Regions from separate parts of the Homo sapiens genome. Here region 2 is linked to region 1. Evidence: fine-mapped expression QTL. Tissue or cell type: whole blood. Region 1 holds a variant in brackets; the other region holds the start of a gene. All regions are shown on one strand. Distances are between the middles of the regions.

What was found. PIP is the estimated chance that this variant, and not a neighbour inherited with it, causes the effect.
Region 2: it holds the start of CDH23, and the variant in region 1 is fine-mapped to the expression of CDH23 in whole blood (TOPMed, PIP above 0.99).

What each region holds. Positions count from the first base shown.
Region 1 is chr10:71,787,253-71,792,252 of GRCh38, forward strand. CDH23 (cadherin related 23) reads left to right here. Exons shown (of 70, transcript NM_022124.6): 45 at 1,688-1,790; 46 at 3,036-3,161; 47 at 3,880-4,083. It overlaps MIR7152 (microRNA 7152), which reads left to right and starts at 3,495; the gene lies at 3,495-3,548. RefSeq lists an enhancer at 3,036-3,935. The variant C/G (reference allele first, on the strand shown) is at 3,108.
Region 2 is chr10:71,394,037-71,399,036 of GRCh38, forward strand. CDH23 (cadherin related 23) reads left to right here and starts at 2,884. Exons shown (of 70, transcript NM_022124.6): 1 at 2,884-3,282. RefSeq lists a silencer at 2,403-2,492 and an enhancer at 3,176-3,687.

The sequences.
Region 1 (5,000 bases):
ACCCAAGATCACCCAGAATAGGGTCTTCAACCCAGGTCTTTGAACCCTGGTGTGGGCGCTTTTCAGATTTTTTTTTTTTTTTTTTTTTTAGATTCAGGGAGTACAAGCACAGGTTTCTTAACATGTCCATATTGTGTAGTGGTGAAGACTGGGCTTTTAGTGTACCCATCAGGTGTACCCAAAACTACCTATTATGTCCAATGTTCACTGAACTGTGAACTCACTGCCACTCACTGAACAGTGAACATTGTACCTAATAAATAATTTTTCAACCCTCACCCTCTTCCCATCCTCCCACCCTTCTGAGTCTCCAATGACTCTTATTCCATTCTGTATATCCATGGTTACACATTATTTAGCTCCCACTTATAAGTGAAAATATGCAATATTTGACTTTCTATTTCTGAGTCATTTCACTTAGGATAATGGCCTTCAGTTCCATCCATGTTGCTGCAAAAGACACGACTTCACTCTTTCTTACGGTTGAGTAGTATTCCATGGTCTATATACCACATTTTCTTTAGTCAGTCCTCTGTGGATGGACACTTACATTGATTCCATATCTTTGCTATTGTGAATAGTGTGGCGATAAACATGTGAGTGTAAGTATCTTTTTGATATAACGATGTATTTCCCTTTGGGCAGGTACCCAGTAGAGGGGTATTGTGGGATTGAAGGGTAATTCTGTCTTTAGTTCTTTGAGAAATCTCCATATTGCTTGCCACAGTGGCTGAAGGAATTTACATTCCCACCAGCAGTGTATGAGCATTCCCTTTTCTCTGCATCCTCACCAGTGTCTGTTGTTTTTTTCTTGAGATGGTGTCTTGCTCTCTTGCCCAGGCTGGAGTACAGTGGCACAATCTCGGCTCACTGCAATCTCTGCCTCCTGGGTTCAAGCGATTCTCCTGTCTCAACTTCCCAAGTAGCTGGGATTACAGGTGTAAGCCATCATGCCCAGCTAATTTTTTTGTATTTTAAGTAGAGACAGGGTTTCACCATATTGGCCAGGCTGGTCTCGAACTCCTGACCTTAAGTGATCCGCCCACCTCAGACTCCCAAAGTGCTGGGATTACAGGCGTGAGCCACCATGCCCAGCATGTTGTTTTTTGACTTTTTAATAATAGCCGTTCTGACTGGTGTGAGAGGGTACCTCACTGTGGCTTATTGCATTTCTCTGATGATTAGCAACACTAAGCATTTTTTCTTTTTTTCTTTTTTTTTGAGATGGAGTCTTGCTCTGTCATCTGGGCTGGAGTGCAGTGGCGTGATATCCGCTCGCTGCAAGCTCCGCCTCCTGGGTTCATGCCATTCTCCTGCCTCAGCCTCCCAAGTAGCTGGGACTACAGGTGCGTGCCACCACGCCCAGCTAATTTTTTGTGCTTTTAGTAGAGACGGGGTTTCACCATGTTAGCCAGGATGGTCTCGATCTCCTGACCTCGTGATCTGCCCGTCTTGGCCTCCCAAAGTGCTGGGATTACAGGCATGAGCCACTGCACCCGGCCACATTTTTTCATGTTTGTTGCCCTCTTGTATGTCTTCTTTTGAAAAATGTGAGTTCATGTTGGTGTGGGCTTTTCTGATCATCCACCTCTGTGCCCCAATCCCCAACCTCCCAACCCTCCTCCCACCTAGGTGGGGGCACTTTGCTGAGCATGGCCTACAACGTGCCCCATTCTGCCCCTTGCAGGATTATGACTTGCTTCTGATCTTCCTTTCTGATGAGAATGACAACCACCCCCTCTTCACTAAAAGCACCTACCAGGCAGAGGTGATGGAAAACTCTCCCGCTGGTAGGTGCTGGGCCCACCCGGGAGCTCCTGCTGTTGCCAGGCACCACTGGGGCCTGGGATGCCTGAGGACCTCCCTTATGCCTAACGGCATAGCTGAACCTAGACCCCAGTGGGTGCGGGAGGGGAAGGATGGGTGCAGCTCCGGGAGATGGTGGGCTGGGGCTCCCGGGCCTCCTATGAGCACAAAGAAGCCACAGGTCTGGTTGGAAGAGACAGTCGTGGTCATTGTTCCCCAGGGTGGTCTGAGAGCTGCCCCACCATCCCTCAAGAAGGGCATGTAAGGTGTGAGGACTACCCCGGAGGGGAGTGGGTCCACCCCTCACTGCTCCCTCCACCCCAGGAGTGCAGGGCATCCCAGGGCCTTCTGGAAGCCCTGGGGAGCATCTATAACTAGAAGTGGGAGGTCAGGGGGTCCTGGGTAGGCCAGTGTAGCCCTCTCCCCACACACATGCACTGACCAGGCTCACCTCCCTCCAGAGGGACAGAATCTCCTCTGTGATGTCCCCTGAGGTGGCACCTGCACTCCTCCAGTCTCCCCAGCCCCTGTTCCTCATCTCTGGCTGGGCATCCCCCCTAGGTGAATTTCATTCTTAAACCTGTCTGTGTGTATGCTCACACATGTGCCCGTGTGTGTCCATACCAAGGCATGTGCGTGGGGTTACACATGTGCACAGACACATATAGGTACATGGGTGCCCACTGATGCGCTCGTGTGCAGACATGCCCACCTGCAGAGGCACACGAGTGCACAACCAGGGAATCCCAGGCCTGTGCGTGCTCCTGGACAAGTGCCTGTGGCCATGTGAACACAGAACTTGATGCACACATGAGTGGGTTTTTCTAGTCATGTATGGCCAGGCCCCCAAAGGCAGAGCATTGTGTGAACACATGTGTTGACAGGCGAGACCCACACATGGGGAGGGGATGTCAGGGAGCCCCAGACCCTCCCGAGGAGCGGCCAGCCTCAAAGGCTGCTGGGAAGGCAGATGTGGCTCTGGGCAGCCGGGGCCTTGCTCACCACTCTCATGTTTTCTCCCCAGCAGGGCTTTGAGGCCGCTCCCCAGGCATCTGCGTTCAGTCTGCCAAGGCTGCCGCAGGCCCGCCCCCAGGGCCTCCCCACCCTGTCCACCTCACCTCCCTCCCCTCTCATCCATCGTCAGCCATGGCTCACCGGGACAGGGCAGGGGAGGTGGGAGGGCAGGGGGCTGGGTTGGTCTTGTGGTGACCCCTCTCCTTCTGGCCCAGGCACCCCTCTCACGGTGCTCAATGGGCCCATCCTGGCCCTGGATGCAGACCAAGACATCTACGCCGTGGTGA[C/G]CTACCAGCTGCTGGGTGCCCAGAGTGGCCTCTTTGACATCAACAGCAGCACCGGTGAGGCCTCTGTGCCACCCAGCACTCCCAGCCTGATTCTGGGGTGGGGATGGCCACACTGCTGGATTGAGGGCCTCCCTTCTCAGTGCTGGACCCAGGCTGTCCGTGGAGACCCCATTTTTCACAGCCCAGAGTCCCCATCTTGCAGCTGGGTTATATCACCCAGTGGCCTGGCAGGGGGACGTGGGAAGAGGCTTGGAGACGATACACAGGACCTCTGTTGGTGCACGAACTCTCAGCCTGGGCCGGGAGCCCCCCAGCCCACTCCCGTCATCTCCCCATGCGCAGGCCAGAGGCTCAGGCCCCTAGTCCAGCAGAAGTAGCCAGAGCGACTTTCCTGTCCTCCAACCAGACCATGCCACATCCGTCTGGTCCTGGACAGGAGGCCGCTTTGGTGACAGGTGCCGACAGGAAAGCACATCTGTCAACAGAGACGGTCAACCCTGTGCCCTGGGTCACTCTTCCCAGGCAAGAGTCTTGAAGACAGCAGAGGGCACCTGCAGAGGGGACAACCACAGGAAATGCATGGGGCCCTCCCTCAGCACGGGTGGTTGAGCCTGTGGGGGAGAAAGTCATTTTGTTACTGCCTCTGCTCCTCTTTCATCTCTGTCCCATGGTGCCCCTGTCTTTCTCTGCTCTCTCCCTGTTGGTTCTTGCCCTGTCTTCCCACCGCACCCCTTTTCTGTGTGTTTCCCTGGCTGGCGGCACCGGGTGCCAGGTGTGGTGACCGTGAGGTCAGGTGTCATCATTGACCGGGAGGCATTCTCGCCACCCATCCTGGAGCTGCTGCTGCTGGCTGAGGACATCGGGCTGCTCAACAGCACGGCCCACCTGCTCATCACCATCCTGGATGACAATGACAACCGGCCCACCTTTAGCCCTGCCACCCTCACTGTCCATCTGCTAGAGAACTGCCCGCCTGGTAAGCAGGGGACAGGCCCCAGCACCCCACAACCAGGGGCCGGTTGGTGGTCACAGGGGACTGGAGCCTCAGGTTGGACACGGAGTTTGCCTCCAGTGGGGAGAAAGATGGGCAGCAGGGTGAGTGTAGAACACACTGGAGAGGGAGTCAGGAGACCTGGGCCCCTGCTTCCCTCCTCTGAGCTTCTGTATCTTGCCTGCAAAACAAGATTCTTTTTTCCTTTCTTTCTTTTTCTTTTCTTTTCTTTTTTTTTTTTTAAGACGGAGTTTTGCTCTTGTTGCCCAGGCTGGAGTGCAATGGCACAATCTCGGCTCACTGCAACCTCAGCCTCCCAGGTTCAAGTGATTCTCCTGCCTCAGCCTCCCGAGTAGCTGGGATTACAGGCGCCCACCACCACACCCAGCTAATTTTTGTATTTTTAGTAGAGACGGGGTTTCACCCTGTTGGCCAGGCTGGTCGCAAACTCCTGACCTCAGGTGATCCACTCGCCTCAGCCTCCCAAAGTGCTGGGATTACAGGTGTGAGCCACCACGCCTGGCCTACAAGATTCCTAAGTATTCTCCATTTGAATTCCCAGATGGAAAGACTGACTATTTTAAAGTCAAAATAGGATCAACATGATTCCCATCAAAATCAAATATAACTTCTGGAAGAATAAGAAAATTTTGAAAAACATAAGTATAATAAGCCAGATTTGGCTTACCAGATTTTATAACATATTATAAAGCTACAGTATTTAAGGCCATGCAATATGGGCACAAGACTCCAGGACAAAGTAGCCCAGAAACAGATACTGGTAAATTAAAGAATAAAATATGATGTGATAAAGGAAGCAATGAGGCCAATGGGGAAGCTACTTATTCAGTGTGCAAAAACCTATTTAATCTAATCAATTACATCCAATTATTATAATCTGT
Region 2 (5,000 bases), 390 kb before region 1:
CAAGGCCAAGAGAGGTCCAGTGTCCAGCCCGCTACCATCCAGCTAGAGGGTGACCTAGAACTCAGATCCCGCTCTCCGGACTCCTGGCTCCATCACACTGTGTAAAAGCATGACCACCTAAGACATGTAGGACCACGACTCCAGTTCATTTGTCCAAGAGCCTACTTGGCATCTCTGTTCTGTGACTGCACAGGCCTCTCACACAACATGTCCCAAGGGAGCTCTTGCTCAGGTCTCCATAGTGGCCTCCTCAGAGGGCCCCATCACAGGAAACAGCACACTGTCCATCTACCACCACAAGCCAGAAACCCAGAAGTCTCCTTGACCCTTTGCTCTATCTCACGTATAACCACTCCCTGTCCTCCTGGCCCTGTAGATTTTTACCTCCTGAAAGTCACTTCTCTCCACTTCTACCCACCCCCTCATTCCAGGCCTCTGTCACCAATCACCTAGACACTGCAGCAGCCTGAGGACATGTAAGCTTCACCAGGGCAAGGATTTGTTTGGCGCAAGCATGCGTGTCTGTGTGCATGTGTGTGTGCCTGTGTGTGTGTGCTTGTGTGTGTTGTTCATTGACATATCCAAAGTGTCTAAATTCACAGGGGTTAACTAACGTTTTCTGTAAAGGGCCAGGCTGTAAATATTTCTTGTTTTTGCAGGCCATGCGGTCCCTCTTGAAATTCCTTATGTCTGTAGTTGTAGTGTGAAAGGAGACACAACCAAACAGGCCATGTCTGTGTGCCACTAAAACTTTCTTTACAAAAACATGTGATGAGGCAGATTTGACCTCTGGGTAGCGGTGTGCTCACCCCTGGTCTAGAAAATTTCTTGGCACATAGTATTTGACAAATAAATACTTTTAATTGAAGCAGTCTCTTCTCATCAACTGTTGCCTCCCAATCAATTCTCTCTCTCTCTTATTTTTTTTTAGATAGAGTCTTAGTGATCCTACTGCCTCAGCCTCCCAAAATGCTGCCATTATAGGTGTCAGCCACCAAGCCCGGCCTCTGAAGCTTTCAGTCTTAGGATAAAGATCAACTCCTGATTAAGGCCAACACACCTGCACAGTCTGGCCCCCACTCCATTGTGGCTTTACAGTCACTGCCAAGGACTAGAGGGACCACTCAGTGACTCGGATCAGAGAGGGGGTGCTTAAAGCCAACAGATGGTGCAGGCTCACTCACCCTCCCAAGCTTCCCAGGAGCGTTTCCTCGTACGCTGGAGGCACGGAGCTCTCCCCACCCTTTCTGGACTTCCTGACATATGCCAGCTCCTTCCCACCTTTGCACAAGTTGATTGCGACTGCGGTCACCAAACCATTGTTCCTGGCCCAGCCGTTGCCTGCAGTGGGCACCTGGGGCCTTTGCACATGCTGTTTCTCCTGCCTAAAACTCCACTCTCTCTCCCTTGCTCATCCTTCAGCTCAGTCACCTCCTCTAGGAGGTCTTCCCTGATCCCCTCGGCCAGGCGCCATTAAAGCACTCTTCTTCCTAGCACTGATTCTGGCTGTAATTTTACCTGCTTATGTGTTTCATTGATGAATGTCTGGTTCCCCTACTAGAGAAGCTTCATGGGGCACAAAGACCAAGCCTGTTTTGTTCTCCATCCTATTCCTAGAAACTATTTCAGTTAGCTAGCACATAGCAGTGACTGTGAATGAATGAATGAATAATGAATGAGCGAATGGTAAGGAACTGGAGCTTTGGAACCAGATAGATTCTGGGTTCAATACCCGACTCCACCACAGGGGCAAGTCCCCAACCTCCTAAAGCCTGTTTCTCACTGTAAAACTGGGATAATGGCAGGGCCCACCAGAAAGACTTTATTGAAGATAGAATGAGTTGAGGCCCAGAAAGTCTCAGCCCAGAGCCTGGCTCCAGGCAGGTACTGTCAATGTACTGACTGGAACAGTGACAGCTCGGAAATCCTGTCATGTGAGAAATAGTTTTAAAAAATCAGAATGCTTAGCCCCGGGGAAGTAAAGATCAAAGGTAGGGGATAAACCTCTTCCATTACCTGCATATGGACCCTTTCTTGATCCAGCTGTCTCAGAAAGCCATAAAGTCTCTGTCCCTATAGGTGTGCAAAAAGGAGCCGGGAGACCATGACTCGGGCACTGCAGACGGAGCTCCCGCAGGGGTGAGGGCGCCTAAGTGACCTCACGGGTCTCCTCCAACCCGGGGTCCTCCATTTCTAAGCACTTGGAGGCCTCTTGAGCTCTAGTGAGGGAGGAGGCGCAGATGGGAGCGCACGAGTCGGGTGGGCAAAGGCAGCTGGTTGGAGAGAAGCGTAGGCCAAGAGGCCCCAAGGACTAGAGGGACTGCTCAGCGACTCTGGGAGCAGAGAGGGGGCGCTTAAAGCCAACAGATGGCGCGGGCTCACCTAGGCCGAGCGCCCGCTCGCCCGCCCGGGCTTCCCGGGAGCGTTACCTCGCTCTGCCTGAGGCGCGGGGCGGACGAGACGCTGGGGGCCCCATCCCCCTGCGCGCCCCTCTGCGGGACGGCTGGCGGCCTGGCGGGGCACTGCTCTGTCTCGCACCTGGGGCCTCTTCCGCGGGCTTCCTCCCTGCCCCTTTGGGGGATTCGTAGAGTTGCCACAGCAGCCGGTGCCATGACATCGGCAGAGGGCAGCTTCGCCAGCACTGAAATATTCATGCCCTGAGCGCCCGGCGGGGCTCGGCGCCGCTCCCGGGGGTCCGGGCGGGGCCGGGCGGGAGCTCGGGGGTCCTGGCGGCCTGAGGGGTGGGGGAGCGCCGAGCGCGGGCGGGCGGGCGGGGGCCGGGCGAGGCGGGAGGTGAGGGAGGGAGCTGCGGGAGGCGGGGTCTGGACGGCGGGGGCCGAGCGGGGCGGGGGCCGAGCGGGGCGGGGGAAGCAAGGGAAAGTTGATCGCGGACTTGAGCGGCGGCGGCGGCTCGGGAGAGAGGGACGCGGGCTGCAGGCGCGATGCTTGGCTAGAGGACGCGTCCGACGGCGGCCGGACGCTGAGGTGGTCGGGGCTAGTCAGCCCGGCCTGGGCATGGAGCGCGGGGTGGCAGAGCCTCTGGACGTTTGGGGCGCGCCCAGTCCGAGCCCCCGGCGCGCCTGAAGTTGCGAGCGGCGAGCGGCGAGCGGCGAGCGGCCCGCGGAGACCCAGGAGCTGCCGGCACGCCGCGGATGAGCCTTCGCGCCGGCGGGAAGACGCGGCGGTGGCCAGGGCCAGAGCAGGCGGCCCGCGGGGGCCGATCCGGCGGAGAGCAGAGCCCGAGGCGAGGCGAGGCGCGGCGCCGCTGCACACACGCACACGGTACCCGGAGCCACGCACCGCCTCTTCCCTCCTCGCTTCCCTCTCCTTCCCCTCGCCGTTCGCCCGCCGCGCGGCGGGGAAGTTGGTGGTGACCGCGGCTGCCGAACCACTTGTTCCCAGCGCGGCCATCGCCCGTGGCGGGCGCTCGCGGCATCCTTCGGTCCCAGGCCCCTGGCCCTAGCCTCGCGCCCCGCTCCGAGCTCCCCGACGCGCGGCAACTTTGATTCCTGGGAACTCGAATTCCATTCGCGTTGGCCTTGGGAGGACAGGCATCCCATCCCCCATCCCCGGTCCTGGGACCGCGAACATTTGGGGGCTTTGCTCTCGGCGCTACGGAGAGGGTCCAGGTCTGGGGTGGAGAGATTTTCGAGAGTGGAGCGCGTTGGGATCCAATCCCCTCCCCTTCTGAGCCCTGGGTCCCCATTTGGACAGTGGGGATGGGGTGGGGCGCACCCCTACTGCGGGCTGGGCAGAGGCGCTGAGGGGAACTAAAGGCACGTAGTTCTCCCCTCCCCTCATCAAGTCCCTGTGCCCGCGGGAGACCCCAGGGGACTTACACATCCTCCCAAATTCGGTCCAGCTATGGGAAGACGCGCCCCTCGAGGAGCCGGGAGCCTTTTGCGGCTCTCGCTTCGCCTTCCTGGCCCTGGAACTGGTCCGCTACGAGCGGTGCTGGCTGCCCCCAGGAGCTGGCACCCGGGAGCACTGCCCCTCATCTCCACCGTAGGTCAGCCCAGGACTCGAGCAGAGCCCGCGTGTTCCAAGGCAGTGACGGCGCCAGCCGGCGGGGACTCTGCCTGGCTTTCTCGGAGCGGGCACCTAGAGAGGCTGCCTCCGTGCTGTGAGCGGAGATCCGATGCCAGCCGCCGCCCCACTGCGACCCCAGCCCCAGCCCTAGTGCTGTCAGCGGTCCACTGGGAGGAAATTAGCCTTTCCTCGGTAGTAATACTCCCCCATCCTCCCTAGTAATTCAGAAAGCAGAGCCTTCTTTTTCTACGTCCTTTGCCCTCTCAGACCAGAGCTGGCATTGACATTGACCTCGCCTTCCAGCCCCTTGGGAAGTGCCCCAACCCTAATTTGGATTTTGAAATAAGCTAGAGAGACACAGGAGTGTGTGTGTGTGTGTGTGTGTGTGTGTGTGTGTGTGTGTGTGTGTGTTGGGTGGAGTCAGACCCTCACACAGGGAAGAATTAGGTTGTGGGGTGTGGGGTGGGGCGGGCTTTAAGAACCTAGTTGGGGCCAGTTGCATGGTGATGATGAGTCAGCCCACGATGGGGAGAGCTGGCTTGGAGTTAGTGCTTGGTTCGTGGTGCAGGGGTAGGCGCACTGCGGTCAGCACCTACAGGGGTGGGGGCACTAGATGTTACTCTGCCAAGGAGGAGCTGGGAAGGGGCCCCTTGCCTGGGGGAATAGCAAGGCTTGGTTCTGGCTGCCAGGGCTGGGGAGGGCAGGAAGGCAGAGTGTCTCGTGGTAGAGGGTGGGTGTCCCCCGTGAGTTGGGAAGGTGGCACACAGAAGCCACTGGTGTGAACCAGGAAGCTCTGCCTCGAGTGCTGGAGGACAGCAGTGAGGGGTGGGAGGCCCAGAGCTAGCATCCTGGCCCCGTCTGTGCTGGGTCCGCATATACTTCTCAGACTTGGCCTTCCTCACCTCTAAACAGCTGGGCTCCTCACGTCTGCTTACCAAAGGGCTTGATTTGAGGGTTGTGATAGCAGATGG